2 separate regions of the Homo sapiens genome follow, and region 1 is linked to region 2. The links come from fine-mapping of genetic effects on gene expression. Tissue or cell type: fibroblasts. Region 2 holds a variant in brackets; the other region holds the start of a gene. All regions are shown on one strand. Distances are from middle to middle.

Region 1 (10,209 bases), 130 kb before region 2:
TTAAAATCAGGTCTAAATAAGCACCAGGGTAAGGGTCTGGCTTGCAGGGGCATCTCTCTCTTCTCATGCCTTCCTGACTAGAAAATCAGGAGTGGGGAAATGTAGGAACAAAAGGAACAATTTTCTTTTGTGAAGCAAATATATGGAAAGAAAGCCTAAGCTTCACTTTTCCAATTCTGACCAGATAAACTACTCACTCCTCCTCTTCGAGAGCACCCAACAGGGGCTCAAAAATGCTGCTTTCATCCTCCTTGCTCTCCCAACCCAAGAGCACCCAGGCTACGGAAACCTCAGGGTCCAGACCACTCAAAGGATCACAGTTTGGGAACCCCCGAGGTGGACTGCAGAGGAGTACGTTCTGAAGGACTTGAATCAGCTCCAAAGTGCCCCCACACACTCAGTGATCTATAAGATACAAAACTAGAAAGAACTAGAACTACACTCTAAGGGTGTGAGGAAATGATTTTTAAGGAATACTAAAGTCCTAAAAAACAAGTCAAGAGAAAAATGCAGAATTATGTAAGAAGTAGAGATTACAAACATCAATAACAGACATAAGTACTTCAGAGTTAGAGGACATCAAGCTAATATTTCGTAAAGAGCAACCACATGACAAAAATACTCAAAGCTGTAAGCCTTCCTTGGCCTTGGAAGGTCATGAGACTTTTTTTTTTTTTTTTTTTTTTGGCTAAAACAAGGAATGCTTTAGTGAGAGAGAAGAAAAGAACTTCCAGACTTCTAGGTGGCTCCCACTTTTTTTAAAAAAAACTCCTCCTCTCTCTTAAGTGTATGGTCCAGTGATGTCTGGTTACCATGCAAGTCACATCAACAGCTGGACAGCACTGAGCATCCTTAGAACTCTAGGTCTTGTTTTTCTACTAAAGTTTTCCCAATCTTCCTTTGATGTCTGGCACCACCAGCCGACAGCAGCTGACTAACGTGTTATCATGTGACGCTCTGTAAAATAGTAAGGCACAGTAAGATTTTTTTTCCTTTCAGTAAGCTTATGCTGATAAAAAAATAATTATTTTAATGATGTATTTAGAAAAAGGATTATGTACAACAGAAAGTCACAAGGGTAACACTAATTAAAAGGTGTCTCAATTTATTACTACGAATATTTCACAGAACCTACATGCATTTTTACCTGATATTTGCAAAGGCCGTTTCATATTATACATATAACCAGCAAAGAAGGAATATAGAAAAGTGTGGGTCTGGCTTTTCTATCATGAAAAGCAAATTTAACAGTGATAAAGAAGGCAATCAAGATACAAATACAGAAGCCAGGCATGGTGGCACACACCTGTAGTCCCAGCTACTCAGGAGGCTGAGGCAGGAGGATCACTTGAGGCCAGGAGTTTAAGACCAACTGGGCAACATAGTAAGACTCCATTTCAAAAAAAAAAGATAAAGATACAAACTGATATTACGATCTTACTCATTATATCAACATATTTATTGAGCACCTACTACATATACTGGGCACTGGTGATTAAACCAGGTATTATCAACTTCATATTAACCTAAAGGGCAAGAAAAGGACCCTAAGTGATTAAATAATATATAAATTGTGGTAAATATTCAGAAGCAAAAGTGATTACGCTATGAGGGAGAAAATAAAGGACATTTAATTCGCATGACGATAAGGGTGGGCTTGTCAGAGAAGACCTTTATGAGAAAGGACATTTGAGCTAGCACCCAAGGATGATAAGTTACTCAAGGAGATGATCCTAAAATAGGGAGACCAACAGCATGAGCCACAGGCCTGAGGCTAGTCTGCTGGAGAACTGGCCAAGATGACAGCAAGAGATGCAAGTGGATGTAGAGATCAAATCATGCAGGATCCTGAAGTAATGTCAAGGATTTGGTATCTTATCCCAAAAATAAATAAATGTGTTTCCTGAGAGCCCTGACAACTTTAAGACGGCAAATACTTTTTCTTTTTTTTTTCAGGCTGCTGGTAGTAAAACAGACTGCAAGGGGTGCAGAGTGTGTGCAGGAGGCACCGCACCAAGGAAAAAGATAATACAGTACAGTGGCTTGCATTAGGATGGCAGAATAGTGGGGACTGAAAATCAGACCGGTTTGAAAGAGATTTTGCAATAAAAATGGACAGCAGGACTTTATGATGGACTGGTTTGCTAGGGCTGATAGAAGAAAAGAGAGAGTGGAGTGAGCTACTCCTTGGATGGATGAGATGAAAAATGGAGGGGGAACAGTTTGAAAGTTTGAGTGACCAAGAGCTCAATTCTGAAGGAGTTTGAGATGTTGTCATTTATTGGCTGAAATGTGCCAGGCACATCTAATATATATTAGATGTTCTACTCACCATAGCATCCCTTTAAGTAGTGGTATCCCCATTTTCCAGAAATGCAACTGTAGATCACAGAGGCTGAAGTGGCATGGCCGAGCTCACTCACCTCGGGAGTGACAAAGTCACACGTGCAACCCAAGTCTGGCTGGCAGTGGGGTAAACATTCTTTCCACTATACAGAATACTTGGAAACTCTCTCTACACTTTGAATTTTTAAGTCTATTTAGGGTTAGAGCAAGTTAGCATCAAAGAAGAGTAAATAAACGTTATATTATTTTGTAATCCAAATCTTTAATTTATGATGCATGTTTTTCTATCCAACTCCCATTCCCACTCCACTTTTACTTGCAAAGAGTTTTGTAATGTTTTGAACACTAGCAAGATATCTAAGATCTTAATGTTTTATAATAAAGGAGCAAAGCCATTATGCCAGGAATTAACCATAAGAAAAAGACAACAATATCCCACGGCAAACAATATTTTTACTTCCAAGTCATTATATACATCAACATAAAACAGATCAATTAATGAGTCAGAAACCCTGAAGAACTAATCATTTCTCAAAACACAAGGCAGTCAGGTCAAAAACTGACGTAAGTCACCACGTATAGAAGCCTACAAGAGCCAAACACTGAAGATTCAGGTTAAAAGGTTGCAACCTTAAAAAAATAAATAAAAGGCAAAACAAATTATACAACCATGTCGAATTTTAAATCTGTAATTACCAAATATCTGAACCAAATGCCAAATTCAGGAAACATGCATCCTATAAACAACTTAAACACTCTCTGTTCTTTGTAACTGTTTTTTCCAGAAGCACACTGACACTTCTGCAAAGTGAAGTGCCTTTCCTGCCTGCACAGCCCCATGATTTGCTCCCTCTCAGGGCCCTCTAATGCACCCCTAAGCTACTAAAGCCCAGACATAAGATTTGATCAATAAACCTAGAAAGAACTCAGTGCATTACTGCCAATTGTGTCCATCACAGAAAGTACCACCTGGAGACTCTTGAGGAAAAAAATGAGGAAGGGGGAGATTTTTGAAAGGTTTTATCATCTGTATTACAAATTATATTTTGTTGTACTTGATCCTTGAATAGAATAATCATCAAACTATGTTCAGTCTTCTTCAAGTGGGGGATGGTCATGTGTAATTTTATGGTTTGGGGAGTGTGCCTCATAGAGATAAATAAAATTAAAAGTACCATTAGTATGCCCGCTAAAAGATAAAACTCACACAAACCACTTCCCCAAATGATAGTGCTGTCTCCTGCGTCCTGATTTTTGCGTCCACCCTGCACCTCTCCCTGCAGAAAGCTGGCTGGCATTCACTACCGCCTCACTCTGGCAAAGGACAGGATGTCGAAAACCCATTAAGAAAGCTTCTCATTTTCTGTTCCTTCATAACATGATGGCAACTCCTGGCAACTCCAAGATGAAAGGCAAAAAAGAAAATAAAAACTACCTGGGGCCCCCTACCAGAATGAGTGGTTAATCTAATGGAGAGAAAAGCAGAGATTTATACATATTTTAAAATGCTTCCTGGGGACAAAGCAGATCTAATGAATTGCTGAGCCACAATCTACTGGAAAATCCATAAATGTTCGTCCCTGCTGTCACAGGGCTAGAGGATTTTTTTTTTTAATGAAATGCTTTAATGCTAACCTGACAGGGCTAACCTGACAGGTTTAAGTCAGCTATGAGACGTGATTTGCATTCATTTCGCTTCTAAATCCCTAAAGATCAGCAACAATATTGACCCGCAATTATATATCCTACGTTGCACTGTTCAAGATGCCATTTGAGGCTGGGAAAGTAGTGGTTTAGCAACACCAGGCGGCTCTATGATGCTAAAATAACAACGCAACACTGGATTCCGAACCCAAGTACTCATCTTTTAAAACCCAGTGCCGCACCAGGACCCACATTCAAAGCTCGCGTCCCTTCAAGTTGAATCTTCCGGCTTTGTGCGATTTACCCTCTCAAACTTTCTAGTTTGCAAGTCAGAATTACTTTGAACGTCCCCTCTTCTGGACTCCCCTCCCCAAAGGGACTGGCGGCAAAGGAGAATAGAATGCAGATGGTTAATAGTTCAAATGAAATTTAAAAACCTATAAACCAATATTTTTTTAGAGGAGAAAAGCGTTCACCAAACCGCCACCCGGCAAGCGAGCATCCGATTTCCATCCGGAGGAAAAAATATTTTAAAAACCAGACATAAAATTCCCTTTGCAAGAAAAGTGGCCTCTAAACTCCCTTGCCAAGGACACTGGGAGGAAGCAGAAAAGCAAAGACCAAGCTCGTACTTTTCAGTCCGCGGCTTGTGTGCCGCGAGGAGAGGCGCAAAGGGTGACACACCAGGAAAGGTGAACGCAGAGGGAGCGGGAGCCCGCGGCGGGGCAGGGTGGGGGCGGAACGGACGAGGTACCCAAGGTGCGGAGAGAGGGGCAACCGGGCGGAGGGCAGCTCCGAGGCTGCAGGCGGGACGGGCGGGGTCCCCGGCGCAGCCCGGATCGCCGCCGCTAAGTAAAGTTAATACTTACTCAGTTTCGCAACTGCGCCGCCCCCGCAGGCCGCCCAGAGGGGCCGGCCGGGGCGCTGGGGACGCGGCGGCACCCGGAGCTCCGCGGCCGCCCAGCGCCCGTCCCCGCGCCGCACTCCCCGGCACTCCCCGGCGCTCCCCGCGCCGCGCGCCCCGCACCGGCTGGAGGCCCCGGCCCCCCGGCGTTCCCTCTCCGCGCACCTCCCGGCCCGCGCTAGGTGAGTGTGGACGCCACTGGCGGGGGTGCCGCGGTGCGCGAGCGCTCGGCCAGCGGCAGAGACGCCGCGGGAGCCGCCCCCAGCGCCAACGCCGCCGCGGGCGGGAAGGGCGAGGCTCGGCGAGGCTGGGCGAGGAGCTGGGCGGCAGACGCTGAGCGGGGCGCGGCGCGGGGCGCCGGACGAGCGCGGGCGTAGGAGGAGCGCGGGCGTAGGAGTCGGCGACCCGCTCGCTCCCGCGGCCGGTGCCTCTGGGCTGGGGGCCGGGCTGGGGGCCGGGCCGGGCCGGGCCGGGCCGGGCGGCCAGGCGGCTCCGCCCCTTCGCCGGGCAGCGGCTGAGCGCGCGAGAGGAGCGGCGCGGGGGCGCCCCCCTCGGCCGGGCGCTCGGGTTTCAGCCGCCGCTCCTCCGCGCCCCGCCCGCGCCTGGCCCGCTCGCCGGCGCCGGGAGAGACCTCGTAACGGAACTGGGACGCCAGCGCTGCATTGTGGGAGCTTTTAAAGCGGCGGGGAGCTCGGCGCGACCCTCGGGCCCACCGGGCCACGCTCGCCCGGCCCGCGACGCCCCCCCGCTGTCGCCTGGCCCGCGACGCACCGAGGCCTGAGGACCCGAAAGCCGGGCGCGGGGAGATGACCGGTGGCTCGTGACGGTCCCACGGGCAAAATCTTCCATCGCCCGGGGCTGAGACTTGTCAAACTGCCCTCTACGGTCACCCGGAAAGTAGGAGGCTTTTTCTGCAGAGGGGAAAAAAATCAAAAAGAGCCGTTCCATCCCCCCTCCAAGGACTGGGTTTGAATTGCTTTTCATCTGCAGTGGCTGTGATTCAGCGTCCCTCTTAGCAGCAGGCAATGACAGAGGCAGGAGAGGGGAAAAAAAAAAAGAAAGAAAGAAAAAACACAGCAAATGAATCAAACGGACGTGAGTAACAAAAGTTTAGAAAGAGCTGGGCTCGTATTCAGAAAAAACGCCTCATCCCCCCGCCCCGCTGCACTCCCAACCCCTTTAAAAATAGCAGATAATCAAGAAAGGAAACGGGTGCTTTCATATGGAAATACAGATGTGTATGTTGTTTTCAATATTCTACTGTTTTTTTGTGTGTGGCATGCAATTACTCAGGCACTGGGCAAAATTCAGCCTTTGGATTTTGTGGTCACACATACCCCAACTCCGCAACAGCTATTAATTTGCAGGGCGATGGGGTGCGGATAGTGGATGAGATACAAGAAAGCATTCCAATTAAAATGCCCCCCCCCACCCCGCCTTTTAATTTTCCAGACACTTGCTTTTATTTTTCTTTTTTTAAACATCATCAAAACAAGAATATTAAACTTGAAGCAGAATTTGTTACAGCGTATCTGACTCAGGACCTGATTTAAGGTTTGGGGTTTTTTGGCCCTTTGTTTCTTCCTCTTGTTTTTTGACCTTTAGTTACTCCACACCTCATTAGTTCCTTGACCTGCAGGTGGACTGAGAAGAGAGCCATGGTAAGACTCAAATTTGTCAAATCAACATTTGGAGAGGAGAAAGTTCACTGTGATTCAAATGCAAAACCAAAGGGAATATGATTTAAAAGTCAACCTGGAGGGCATGGATCCTCCCTTAACCCTACTTGACTCTTTTCAAAGGAGTTGCCTAGCCTTAAGGTGAATGTTTCCTAACCTCTCATTCCCTTCTCAGCCTTTCACTCCACTGAACAACATCAGCCATTGCTTAATTGCCAAATCTAATGGAAAAATTTAATTCCCATCTTGTGCCCTTTGTGGCATTTGCCAATGTTGACCTCTCCTTCTTAGAACTTTCTGCCTTTTGGCCGGGCGCGGTGGCTCATGCCTATAACCCCAGCACTTTGGGAGGCCAAGGCTGGCAGATTGCCTGAGGTTGGGAGTTCGAGACCAGCCTGACCAACATGGAGAAACCCCGTCTCTACTAAAAATACAAAATTAGCCGGGCATGGTGGCACATGCCTGCAATCCCAGCAACTGGGAGGCTGAGGCAGGAGAATCGCTTGAACCTGGGAGGCAGAGGTTGCAGTGAGCCGAGATCACGCCATTGCACCCCAGCCTGGGCAACAAGAGCGAAACTCCATCTCAAAAAAAAAAAAAAAAAAAAAAAAAAAACTTTCCTCCTTTCTTTGGCTGTGGTAGTGATCCCTCTTTTGTGTACTTCTTGAAGCAGGTAGCAGGCAAGAGTGTGGTTATCGTTGGACCAGGATTCAGGATCTGACTGAGTAGCTGACTCTTAATCCAGTTTGTGTTGATCACCAGGAGGATCTGGACCTCAGTATTACCACATCTAGAGGTGAGCAAGTTGACTGACTCTTGATAACTAACTCTTATATGATGAGCATTTATATCAGGACAGAACTTCCTGATTGGATAACAATACCTACTATTTAGGAAAAACCCTTCCTAAAAATCCAGGTATCCTCACCTCCAGTCTTACTGATGGCTGCCAAAGTCAGTGAATTTGCCTCCATTCAGTGCTGGATAAGTGCAGAAAAATCTTTACCCTACCTAGCCCATTTGGTTAATGCGTTCTTTCTTCAGAGTGTAGTACAATTTGTTTTAAGCTTTTTTTTTTTTTTGGTAGCTATAATCACATCCCTGTTAAGCCTTCCTGAGATCACACCAAATGTCCTTGATGGGAATTGTAAACAACCCTTACTTCTGGTTTCTAATGATATTCCAGGAAAGGAGCCTAACTAGAGTCAGTGAGTATTCATGCACTTCAAACCCTGTGACATAATAAGATTTGATTTTTAAGAAAACAACTTGAGAGGATGGATTCAGAAAAGAGGCAGATCCAAGGGAGAGTCTAAACTGGAGAGCAGTGGCAATGAACAGGAGGAGGCCATATCGAGAGATGAATTGATCATCTTATAGACCTGGAGGTCAGAAATCTAAAATCAAAGTGTGGGCTGTGTTCCTTCTGGAGGATCGAGGGGAGAATCCATTTCCTTGCCCTTTTCAGCCTCTAGATGCCACCTGCATTCCTTGGCTTATAGTCCCTTTCTCTATGTTTAAGGCCAACTGCATAGCATCTTCCCCCATTTCTTTGTAACTTCTGCTTCATGGTGATGGGGACATCTCTCTCTCTGATCGTAGGAATTGATTTAGATGCTTTTCTAGCCATATGTATTATGAACTAAATGCAGTTGAATTACTTATGGGAGGAAATGGCAGGTGACCTCATTACTTGTCAAATCATCGTTAGATAACTGACTTGACTGTTAAGATTGCTGAAGCAGTGATTTATTACCTCAGCTAAATCTGTATCAATCTGGTGACCCGTGTAACTGAAACCAAGATGTTAACACTGTAAGAAAACCTAGCTTATGTTTGCAGCTCCTGAGAATAAATCCCTTTATCTTGAAATACCTGGAAATCCCTTTTTAATGTCCAGTGGAGTCATATTGCCAAGTTTGAGAAATGTGTCTAGACCAGTATTTCCCAAACAGCCCACCAGACAACACCAGCCTGTAAGATGGTGATATTGTTTGGATGTTTTTTCCCTCCAAATTTCGTGTTGAAATGTGACCGCCATGTTGGAGTTGGACCTAGTGGAAGGTATTTGGGTGATGGGGAATCTCTTGTGTGGCTATGTACCTTCCCTGCAGTAATGAGTTCATGAAAGATCTGGATGTTTAAAAGAGTCTGTGATCTTCCTCCTCTCTCTCTTGCTCCTGTTCTTGCCAGGTGATATGCCAACTCCACCTTTGCCTTCCACCATGTTTGGAAGCTCCCTGAGGCCTCACCAGGAGCAGATGCTCGTCCCATGCTTCCTATAAGCCTGCAGAACTGTGAGCCATAATAAACTGTGAATTATAAATTGCCTTTATAGCAATGCAAATGGACCAGTACAGATGGGATGCTGGGAAGACAGTTGTTTCCACCTTCAGTAAAGTCCGTGGAACACAGTTGTGACTATATTCTAGGCCAGCCAAGATGCTTGTACTCAGAAAGGAGTGGTCTCAGGACCATAAGAAAGTGAAAAAATAAAAATAAGAAAATAAAGAAGGGATTGTCAATGAATCAGAATTCATCAAGGTCAAAGTCTTAGGAAATTCCTTCATGAGGAAGTCTAGGGGGGCTATGGAAATGAAATTTTTAAACAAATAGGTATGTGGTGCTGGCAGGAATAAATTATGGACTTATGAATATAACATAAGATTCTTTATTACCTGGTCTCACCCGTCTTTCCACCTCTGCCCCCCTTCTTGCCCGACTCTGTGTATCACCCATAATAAACTACTTACAGCTTCCTAGTGTTAAATTTACCCTAAAGCTGCCTCCTTCAATATTTTAAGTTTAACCTAAAGGTTCTTCATACATAGTGAACTATAACCCAATGATTAAACAGATTGTAACCTACTCTTGTACCAGTCACCAAGTTTCAGCCAATCAGAGGTGGCCAACTGTTCAAACCATGCTCAAATAAGGGAAATGTCATGGTGTAACTAATCCAGCTGTTTCTATACCTTACTTCTGTTTTCTTAGGTCACTTTCCTTTTTTGTCCATAAATTCTCTCCAACCACTCAGCAGCACTGGAGTCACTCCAAAGCTATCCTGGTTCAGGGGTCTGTCTGATTCACAAGTCATTCTTTGTTCAATTGAGCTCTGCTAAATTTAATTTGTCTGAAGTTTTTCTTTTAACAGATGGTGTCAGAAATGGACCCCAAAGTAGAGCTCCCAGTGATCCCCCAGGAGCACTGAGTGACCACAAGGGGTACCTGCTGGGCCCGTCCTCTCGCAGTGTCCACTGCTCTCTTACAGCAACTGGAGATTGTGGCTGCATTCTCTCTCAGATTCTGAAGCTCCATACATTGCCGTTTTCAGCTGTTCAAGCTTGCTTGAGCAAATTTTTGATCTTAGCTGAGTTTGGAAGTCGATAGACATTGGACTGGGTCCAGGATTTGATTGGATCTGATAATTAACTGGCTTGGATCCAGTTAGATGCCTCGGTTATCTGACTGGGTCAGATAGAAACCGCCAGTAAATATTTTAATAACAATACTGCAGGGGTATGAACTCTGGCTTTAAGAAACTCACAAGGAATTTTATGTTCTATACCCTTTGTTTCTTTTTCTTGTGTGCTTCGGTCAGGAAAAATCATTAGTCAAGTTAATCAAGGGGATCTG
Region 2 (10,209 bases):
CTCCCTAGTGTGAATTAACATTGTCTTTCACAACTGTCATACTTTTTTTAGTAATGAAAAAATGGAAATCTTACTTTAAAAAGATAATTTTTTAAATACTTAGACTTCTTTTTGCTCTCAAAACTAAAGTGATGCATAACTTTAATTATAAGAGAATTCCAAAATCATTCTTTAATTCTACCTTATCTTCCTTGTCTACAGATTCATAATCTACATATTCTTCATGTGTAGTCTCCACTAGTTCAGAATCAAATATGTCAATTCTATTGTACTATTTAGAGCATTACATGGCAGTGACATCAAATTAGCATATATATTATTGTCTTCACTTTAAATAATTTTGTTTAAAGTGTCGCTAAAATTTTCTTTGTCTTAGCTATATTAAGTAAAAATATAGCCAAAGAAAGTTAGTTACCAAATCCTTAATGCCTGTTGCTTGTTTTTCATTTTTTAACAGAAATATTGACAATACACTCTGAGTCAGAACATAAAGATGTTATCCAAAATTCTTAGTAGAATATACAGCTTTCCAGACTGCCTATCTCCAAGAAAAATCTTGGATTACTTTAAACATATAATTCAAGAATCTGAAAAATGTTCTTACCTTAAACAATTTAAATAAATGTGATTTTGTGAGTTGTTTGGTTGATATCTTCTCAGTGGACTCAAGGACAATCTCACTTTCACATCCATCTCTTTGTGATAAAATGACAGGCATTTCAAGAGACAAGAGGCAGGCTGCTGCCCACTCAAAAGTACAATTCCACCCATCAGGCAGAGCTCCCAAATTAAGGATCATAGCAATTACACACAACAACAGCATGGAAAAGAAGCCAGTGCTGCAGAGGTGATCTGGATCCAGGAAGAAAGGGAAGATGCCTTCAATCAAAAAGTAAGTCTGTCATTTCTAACATGTGGTCTTGCCCATCTTCTTTGCAGAATTTTAAACGCTACTACAGTTTCTTCAACTTCTTTCCTCCTCCAACGCTGAATCATCACTAATGTTTACTAAAGAAAGTGTGTTCTATTCCTTGGTCTTAAGAAAGATGGCTAAGTTTTTTCTCAGTCTCAAAGAAAAGATAATTATCATAGTGGAGAGACTGCATGGCTTAAATTATTTTTTGGAAATTAAGTTTTATCTTGGGGTCTTGCTCTTCTATTTCTGGCTAATTAATCTTGGTCAATTTTTTAATCTCTGTCTATTACAGTTTCCTAATCTGTAAAACAGAAATAATAATAAAACCTCTAAATCCTTGATAATTGTTAGAGATTAATATAATTATTGTTTTACATGAATTTATGTTGAAGTAGTCTTTCTACCTTTACACCCAGTGACTTTCTGGTACACAATACCTGTCTGGTAAGTAAAAGACAGCAACATCAATATTGGGCAGCATTATTGCTGGACCTAGGACTGAGCTAGGTGTTTTGGAAAGTGAAAACATAGTCCTGACCTTAGCTATCTTAAAATTTAGTTATGTACATGAAAAAGATACAGTAGCAAAGTTGCATTCAGTTGTGAAAATGCATTGAATTGTATACTTCAGCTATGTGTAATTTTATGCCTATTATTAATCAACAAAAAGAACAGAAAAGTAGATAATTTTATGGCAGTTGTATAATATACGTTGTAAAAACCTAAAGACATTTATATCCTAGTTGAAAATATAGTTGGAATTAATAGCTTCCCTTTTTTGGAGCCACCACATTTATAATAATGTAGAAATCACCATAAAGCACCACATAACATGGCTACCTTTCTAGAATTGAGATTGGTTCCTAAACTGGATGAAAATCCATGTCCTATTTATAGGGCGACTAAAATAATTCTCTTGCTCTGTGTTTCCACACTAGAGCTTTCCCAGAAAGTTCAAGGAAATAAGTCTTACAAAGGAGTTTGCTAAATTAATCAGTAACCCACCAAAAACAAGAGAGGGTTGTCCCTCTAACTCTAGCAGAAAAGATTTGGGGCAGAATGCTTGATGCTTCTTTTACATATGCCCATCTCTGAACTCTGAAGCAATCACTGAGCCTATGGGGAGAGAGCACTCTCATTGTCTGGCTTATAATATGATGGGGAGTGAGGGTACCGTGACTGACAGCCCCCAGGATGACAGATTTTGGAGAAGGTTGGTTCTTTGAAGGATGTGAATCTAGGCAGACAACTCATAACTGTTTGCATAGTAAGTGAAGAAGTTTGAATATTCTTCTGTGGTGTTACTTGATCAAAATTTCAAAGTGGAGACGGGGGGCTGATTTAAAGATAATTGCTACAATTTAGGTAGGACCAATGAGGACAATAGCTATGGAGAAGAAGTGGTGTGATAAGGAGAGACCTCATATTAGGATGTAGCATCTACAGAAATGATTGACTCATTGCCTGCAGAGGGCCTAGAACTAGAGCAAGATATCCATGGTGGCTCCCAGATATCCAGTTTGGGTGACTGGAGGATGGTGGTGACATTCCTCTTGAAAGGGAGATGGGAAGAGAAGTAGGTTAAGGTGGAAGAGAAGCTAATGAGCTCTGTTTGGGACATGTGGAGTTGTAGAAAATAATAATGAGTTGGAAAAACAGAAGTCAAATCATATTGTAAAGTTGTCTTAAAAATGAAATTATTTCAACAAATCTAGGAATTACATAATTGAAACGTCTACAGAAGGAAAAAAAGGAAGGAAAAAAAGAGTTCAGTAACAATTTTTTTTCTTGCAGAGCAAATTCATTGTGCACTTTACTTTATTTGGGTAACTGAAGGAGATTTGACCTTCCATTTAGAATAACTCTGTTCCACTGCATTTTATGATTACTGAGAATATTTGTTTAAAGAATAACATATTTTCCCATTCAAAAGTAATTCATACCTGTTAGAGACAATTTTAAAAAGATAAAACAATGTATTATGTACAATAATAAATATATTTGGCACAGTCTGTCTTCCCTAAAAGGTTTTTAGTTATTACAAATCACATTTGTTGTTATAGAGTCTAACAATACAGAAAAAGAGTTGATATCACTTAAATCTCACTACCTTGATTTAGACACTGTTAGCATTTGGCTATGTTTTTGTGCTTTGCTTTATGTACACACACACAGACAGATACTAATTTATTTGAATGTAATCATGTCATATATGTTCTTTTTTTTTTACCATGAACAGTCCTGTAATTTTTTAACTGTTGTTTACTTGTGATTTTTCCTTGTGTCTCTCCTTTTCTTTATTCCTTTATTCTCTGTCCTAAACAACATATATTAATGATACATATGTATAATATATCCACATATATTTAGTACATTATATATAATATAAATTATACATATTTTATATCTGTATATATTATATATACATATAAAAATATGGGGACTGGGCACAGTGGCTCATGTCTATAATCCCAGCACCTTGGGAGGCTGGGGCAGGAGGATCACTTGAGCTTAGGAGTTTAAGACCAGCCTGGGCAACATAGTGAGACGCTGTTTCTACAAAAATAAAAAATTATCCAGGTATGGTGGCATGCACCTGTACTTCCAGCCACTCAGGAGACTACAGCAGGAGGACCACCTAAGCCCAAGGAGTTCAAAGCTGGAGTGAGCTATGATTGTACCGCTGCACTCCACAGCCTGAGTAACAGAGAGACTCCTTGTCTCTAAAAGAAAAAAAAAGGGAGACTTGGTCATGATTTTAAAAACTAACATTATATTATATATATTTTTCTGCATCTGGCTTTTCATCCTTAACTACACATGGCAAAAATCCCCCCCAAGTCAGTTGCTTTAGGTATCAGGTAAGAGCATCCATCTACTTCAATGTAACTCTCCTAAGAGCAAGGACAATGGCATATTTGTTTTCTGTAGCACCTAATATTGCAGCAAGTATAGCACGTACTTAAGAATGAATATGCTGATATTGTCAATAATTTGAAGCCAGGCTATTGAGAATGAAAATATTTGGACTAAGCAATTTGTTATAGTTCAGTTATGCAAAGCACTAAGTGACACAACCCCATGAAGTTGATAATAGTATTACTATTTTCATTTCACACACTAAGACGATGAGGTACATAGACAATAAATAACTCTCCCAAGAGTACAAAACCCGTGCATTGCAAGATAGTGCGTTCAAGTCTCACAAATTCCAACCAAATGTGTTATCCCTTGTATTTTGTGAAGTAAATAGCAACCATGATTAAATCAACATGTCCAACACGTATAAGAGAGTAATTTGATCCTGAGGACTCACACCATGATCTCTGCATGGAGATTTGCGTGCAACTCTCACGGATACGTTTTTCCTCCTTAGAGTCTTTTATGGTGTGTAGTAGACATGGATTTTCACATTCCATTTACAGAGGAGAAGAATAAAAACACAATGAGGTTATTTTATCAAATGACATACAAAAAGTCAGTAAGGGGAAGAGACAAAGAAACCAGTTCTATTAATCCCCAGGCTAGATGTCTGCCTCCAACAAAACCTGAATTCCGGAAAACCTCATTGAGCTTACGTTTTATTATAAAAGCGAATCTCAGCACTTGGTTAATTTATGGCTTTAAGCAGAAGGAAGGGAGGAAATGTGGTGCTTCAGTTGGAGCTGGTGCATAGCTGGGGATGCAGAGCCAAGCTGTGGCTCACCTGAGCTGATGTGCTGCACAGATGGTCTGCATCAGAATCTCCAGGAAAGTGTGCAGAAAAAACAGAGCCTGGGTCCACCCATGGAATCAGAATTGGGGAAAAGAGCCTGGAATTTAAGCGATAGACTCTATGAGCTACACTTTTTAAAGAAAGGGGCTCTCCTTATGTTGCCCAGGTTGGACTTGAACTCCTGGGCTCAAGTGATTCTTCTGCTTCAGTCCTCTGAGTAGTGGGGGTTACAGGTGTGAGCCCCTGCACCCAGCTTCTATGGGGTGTACTTTTAATAATGCCAGGCAACTTTATGCATGCCAACATTTGAGAACAACTGTTGTGCCCTTCAAAGGCACCTCCTGGGCATCTTGGCTTAGTGGGAAAGGCAGCCACTTACTGTGGGTTCTTGGGGAAGTCAGTTAAATCCCCCGATTCTCAGTTTCTATATCCATAAAACAGGGATAATAGCACTTCGGAACACATAGGGCTATTATAAGAATTAAAAGTCATGTATGTAAAGATTCTGGCACCCAGTAATTAACTATAATTGGTATTACACTCAAATTAATCATAGGTGAGGAGGCTTATGAGGATATTTCAGAAAATATGAATCTGATGAACTTTGCGTGGCTCTCAGTGTGGAAAGAATCTTGAAGAAAAAAAGTTAGGAATCCAGTGATGCACAGTGACTAAACCCAAGTAAAGGTCAAGATTTTAACA[C/T]ACTGCACAAAGCAGCATCACTTCCTCCTGACATTCTTTTGGAGCAGATGGTTGGGTAACGTAATGGAAAGCAGACCCAGGCAGAGGCATGGCACGGAGACGACCAGTTGTGAAATACATTCAGATGGGGTGGTACTGTTTAGATAATGGTGGTAAAACTATGTTGAGTCAGGTGCCAAATGGTGAGGCACTGATGCCAAGACAAACTGACAAACTGGAAAACAGCAGCACCAACACAGACCTCTAGGGAAAAGATCAGGATATACCAAATTAGAGAAAAACAGGATCCTTCATAACTTATAGCTTTGTAAATGCATGTGATAGAAAACTTTACATGTTTTCTCAAAAAAGGAAGCAAACAAAAATGGAAAATTAGAGCCAATTCCAATGGTCAACATGGGAAATTTTATCAGGGAAGCTTCTTAGATCTAACTATGGGCAGACCACAATCTCTCTTAGCTTTAGAGACCTCAACTGTGAAATGAAAAACTAATTGTCTCTCCAGGCCTGTTTCAGTGGGAAAACCCTCTGGTTCTATAATAACACAATGAAATGCTGGCTTTAGTCTAATTTAGTCTAAGTCCCATCTGAATTGGGAATTTTAACAAAACAACATTTCAATTAGTAGGGTTTCTATGTTTTGCCTCTTGTTTTATGTTAAATTATGCATTGTTTTTTCATATAAAACCAAGTTAATAGTGGGAGGAAAGTAGCATTACCATTTATTGAGTGCTTAGCTAGGGCAGAGCACTTAGCTAAATTCATTTCAGATGTTATTTAGACCCCACAAGAATCTCAGAAGATAAGTACAATGATGATGCCCATTTTACTTATGAGAAAATTGAGGAGCAGGTTCAAAATCAAGCTGCTAAGGCTCAGAGGAGGTACCGAACCCAAGTCTCAGTCTATGCACAAGTCTATGCACAAGTCTCAGTCTATGCACATTGAGAGAGAGAAGGGGCTGCTCCCTGTTGTTAGATGAGTTTAGAAGGGAAGTTCCTGATTCCTCTGAGAACTGGAGGACCCTGCTTGTCTTAGATTCTGTTTTACATCCACTCCTGTATGTGCTCCACTTTCTATTCCTGGAGTCATCCCCTCGGAGACCCAAAGGCTGACATTACAGCAATGACATGAGCCATCTGTCACTGCATATTTTGGCCACAAACTTTAACTGGAATCCAGAAGGAGGGAAAAAGACCTGACAGGGATTTTGCCGGTGAAGTCCGGGGCAAAGGTCTGAATGACACCACTGATGAGTGACAGCCCCTTCCCTCCTGCAGGGCTTCTGCACACTGAGTTCCCCGAGTTGATTGTGATGATCCTGGAAATATCAGAAAATGATTCCCTCACTGTCGTACTGCTTCACTTTTGTTATCTGGAATCAAAGATAATGTACCTAATGACATAGAGTAAAAAAGAAACAAAACATTTTAAAAGATGTTAGAGACTATTTTCAGTCTGTAGCCAAGACTACAGTACTTAGAAATGTTTTTTATTAACAAAAAGGATAAAATATGCTTATGTTTACATTCCCAAGATTTATTTCTGAAGCAAAGTTTTCTGCTTTGATTAAAGTCCCCCCGTTTTAAAAACAGTATGGAAATTCACAAGGTTTGTATTTAAATTTAGAGAGCCAAGAGAGGTCAACATTTTTTGTTTTTTGGACAAGGTCTCGGTCTGTTACTTATGATGGAGTGCAATGGTGCCATCATAGCTCACTGCAACCTCGACCTCCCAGGCTCAAGTGATCCTCCCACCTCAGTCTCTCAAGTAGCTGTGACTATAGGCACGTACAACCACACCTGGCAACATTACAAAAACAATTGAATGCAATGAATGAGGAAGAAGACTTTCTTTTACTTGAACAAATATATCGATTATTAATCAAAATTAAAAATTCATATTCAACAGCAAGAAAAAAATAATTTTTTTGACATTGGCCTCTGAGATGGGCTTGAGTCTATGGGACTCAAGGGCTGTACACTCCAGGAAATTAGATGGGAACAACTTTTGTTCCAGTCATACAGGAAAAGGCACCTGAAAATTCTTATTTCCAACTTCTCAACTTTCAACAATATGGCCCATGTATAAACCTGGGCTTATCTTAACCTTGAAAGTTTTGGCATGTGGTGTGATACATGGTATTGAATTGGGACTATCTACCCAGAACATCTCAACACCATGATCATCCACATTCCTGGGCAAATACTTCACAAAGCACTGTAACACTTGCTGGTACCTTGTTACCCACCCGTGAAGGTGCATAATCTAAGAGAGATAATATTGACCCAAACATAAGGGATATATACAAGTGATTTTAAATAAGCCATTAGTAAAATAAATAATAAATTGAATATCTTTAATATCATGGTTAAATGGAAGAACAAAATTCACTAAAATGGGAGGGCAAACAAGGGGAATTCATGAGTTACAAGTTTACCAGGGAAGAAGCAGTTATCTCTGGGGCATAGGGAAGGTTTCCTTGACAGTCAGTGTGATGCTGAGAGGGGGAAACTCTGGTGACTGGACCTCCTCACAGGTTGCTTATGGAGTGGCCAGAAGCAGTCCAGACCTGGTTGGGGAAGAACCACTGCAGTTAATCCTGGAAAAGCCTGTCGGGGATAGAAGGTGGAGCTGTGCTAAAGGCTCACTAACTGGGGAACAGGTCAGGAGAGTGAGAGCAAGATGGGTTAAGGCTAATTGCAAGACATTGGCTGTGAATGAAGGGGTAGATATCCAGGGGCTGTCAAATTAAAGGTGTGGGGTCAGCAGGACAATTATGGCCTCACATTTTTTGTAGAACAAGGTGGGATATTTTAGAATATTTTATAAAATTGTGTATTAAGAAAAATCGGTTACTAAAGTATTATTGGTACCTTCTTTGGAGGATGCCAATTTGTTTCTTTAATATACATCTTTGAGAAAGAATGAATAAGATTAACTATTTGATAACACAACAGGGTCACTATAGTCAATAATAACTTAATTGTATATTTTAAAATAACTTAGGGTGTAACTGGATTGTTTGTTACTCAAAGGATAAATGCTTGAGGGGATGGACACCCCGTTCTCCATGATGTATTTATTTCACATCAAATATCAAAACATCTCATGTACTCCATAAATATATACACTTACTAGGTACCCACAAAATTAAAAATAAATAAATAAATAAAAATCGGGGGGACAAACACAAAATAAAATAAAATACACTTCTTTGGTGTGCATATGGTAGACCAATTCAGTCTAACTTTTAAACTTTCACGTGCAGAGATTTAAACATCATTCTCAGTATTATTTCTAACTGCTTCTGCCTGTTAAAACTTACAGATAAAGGTACTTACTACACCTTTATCTTTTGAGGATACAGCAAAAGGATTTTTTATTTTTGTTTTTTTTTTTTTTTTTTGAGACTGAGTTTTTCTCTGTCGCCCAGGCTGAAGTGCAGTGGCGCGATCTTGGCTCACTGCAACCTCCGCCTCCTGGGTTCAAGCGATTCTCCTGCCTCAGCCTCCGGAGTAGCCTCCCCAGTAGCTGAGATGATAGGCGCCCGCCACCACACCCAGCTAATTTTTGTATTAATTCTACTTGCTAGGTGTGTAGGCAGAATTCTAAATGGTCCTCCAGGATTCCATGTCCTCCACGATTCCATGTCCTCTAATTCCCATAACCTGTGTTCTATGGCACAGTTAACTTTCTAAGAGGGAGATTATCCAGGTAGGCCTAATCTAAACACATCAGCCCTTAAAAGCATAGAGCTTTCTCCTGTTGGTGGCAGAAGAGGGAGGCAGAGAGACATGAAACAAAAGAAGGGTTTCACAGGATGTTGCTGGCGTGAAGATGGAGGAGGCGCCATGATGAGGAACGCCGGTGGTCTCTAGAAGCTGAGAATGGCCTTTGGCTGACAGCCTGCAAGGGAATGGAAACCTCAGTTCTACTGTAACAAGGACCTGGATTCTGCCAATAACCTGAATGCACTTGGGAGCGGATTGTTTCCTAGATCCTCCAGATAGAGCTCAGCCAGCTGACACTTGGACTTCAGCGTTATAAGACTCTAAGCAGAGAACCCAGCCAAGACCACCCGACTCTGACCTACAGAAATGTGAGATAATTAATCCACGTTGCCATAAGCTGCTAAGTTTGTGAAAATTTGTCACACAACAATAGATAAAGATGTTATCTCTTATGTCTAGGCAAATGGAACTCCTGGCTGAGTTATGAAATAAATAAACCCCATCTAAATTTTCATTCTAAATTTTCATGATCTTGTGGCTTATATTTTATTCTACTTGTTTATTTACATATATTCTAGTTTGTTGGGCACAGGAATATAATGTGGCCTTGGTGTGATACTTAGACAAAAATGCATGGTGGGCTGTTAAGATTGGGGTGTTGCAGATGGGGGAAAAAAGGCCCTTCACTCTAACATCAGGGAAATTTTCAAAATATTACTGGGAATGAAGCATTAGTTGCTAACGCACTTTGACAAATGTTAGGGAGAGTGTGTGCTGCTCACATATTCCTGAGGGAGCTGCCATTTGGAAGAGTCTCAGTGTTAAGCAGAGACAAAGCAGACTAAATCTGGAAGGTATCCCAGCCTCCTTTCAGAACTGGGACTATGAAGTACCTCTTGAGCAAACCTTTTAAAAACTTGATCTACAACAGAAAAGTCACCTGCTTTATGTTTTCTCTTCTTTCTCTCCTAGTTGTAGGTGTGAAAAGAGGCAAAAGCCTGATAAACGAATAGGTTAATGTCACCCTTAAATTTGCCTGGAAGGGCATAGCCTCCATCTACTGCGTCTAACAGAGTGGCCAGAAGCAGTGCAGACCCGGCTGGGAAAGAACCACTGCATTTAGTCAGGAGAAGCCTGTGGGT

The links. PIP is the estimated chance that this variant, and not a neighbour inherited with it, causes the effect.
Region 1: RASSF8 starts here. The variant in region 2 is fine-mapped to the expression of RASSF8 in fibroblasts (GTEx, PIP above 0.99).

Annotation. Positions count from the first base shown.
Region 1 is chr12:25,953,799-25,964,007 of GRCh38, reverse strand. RASSF8 (Ras association domain family member 8) reads right to left here and starts at 5,326. Exons shown (of 6, transcript NM_001394098.1): 1 at 4,860-5,326. It overlaps RASSF8-AS1 (RASSF8 antisense RNA 1), which reads left to right and starts at 4,566. Exons shown (of 4, transcript NR_038228.1): 1 at 4,566-4,682; 2 at 7,244-7,369; 3 at 7,661-7,781; 4 at 8,767-9,354. RefSeq lists silencers at 4,715-4,764, 4,905-4,954, 5,025-5,124, 5,225-5,714.
Region 2 is chr12:25,824,632-25,834,840 of GRCh38, reverse strand. No RefSeq gene overlaps it. Among named protein-coding and RNA genes, the nearest start is that of MIR4302, 44 kb to the left of the region's middle. The variant C/T (reference allele first, on the strand shown) is at 5,334.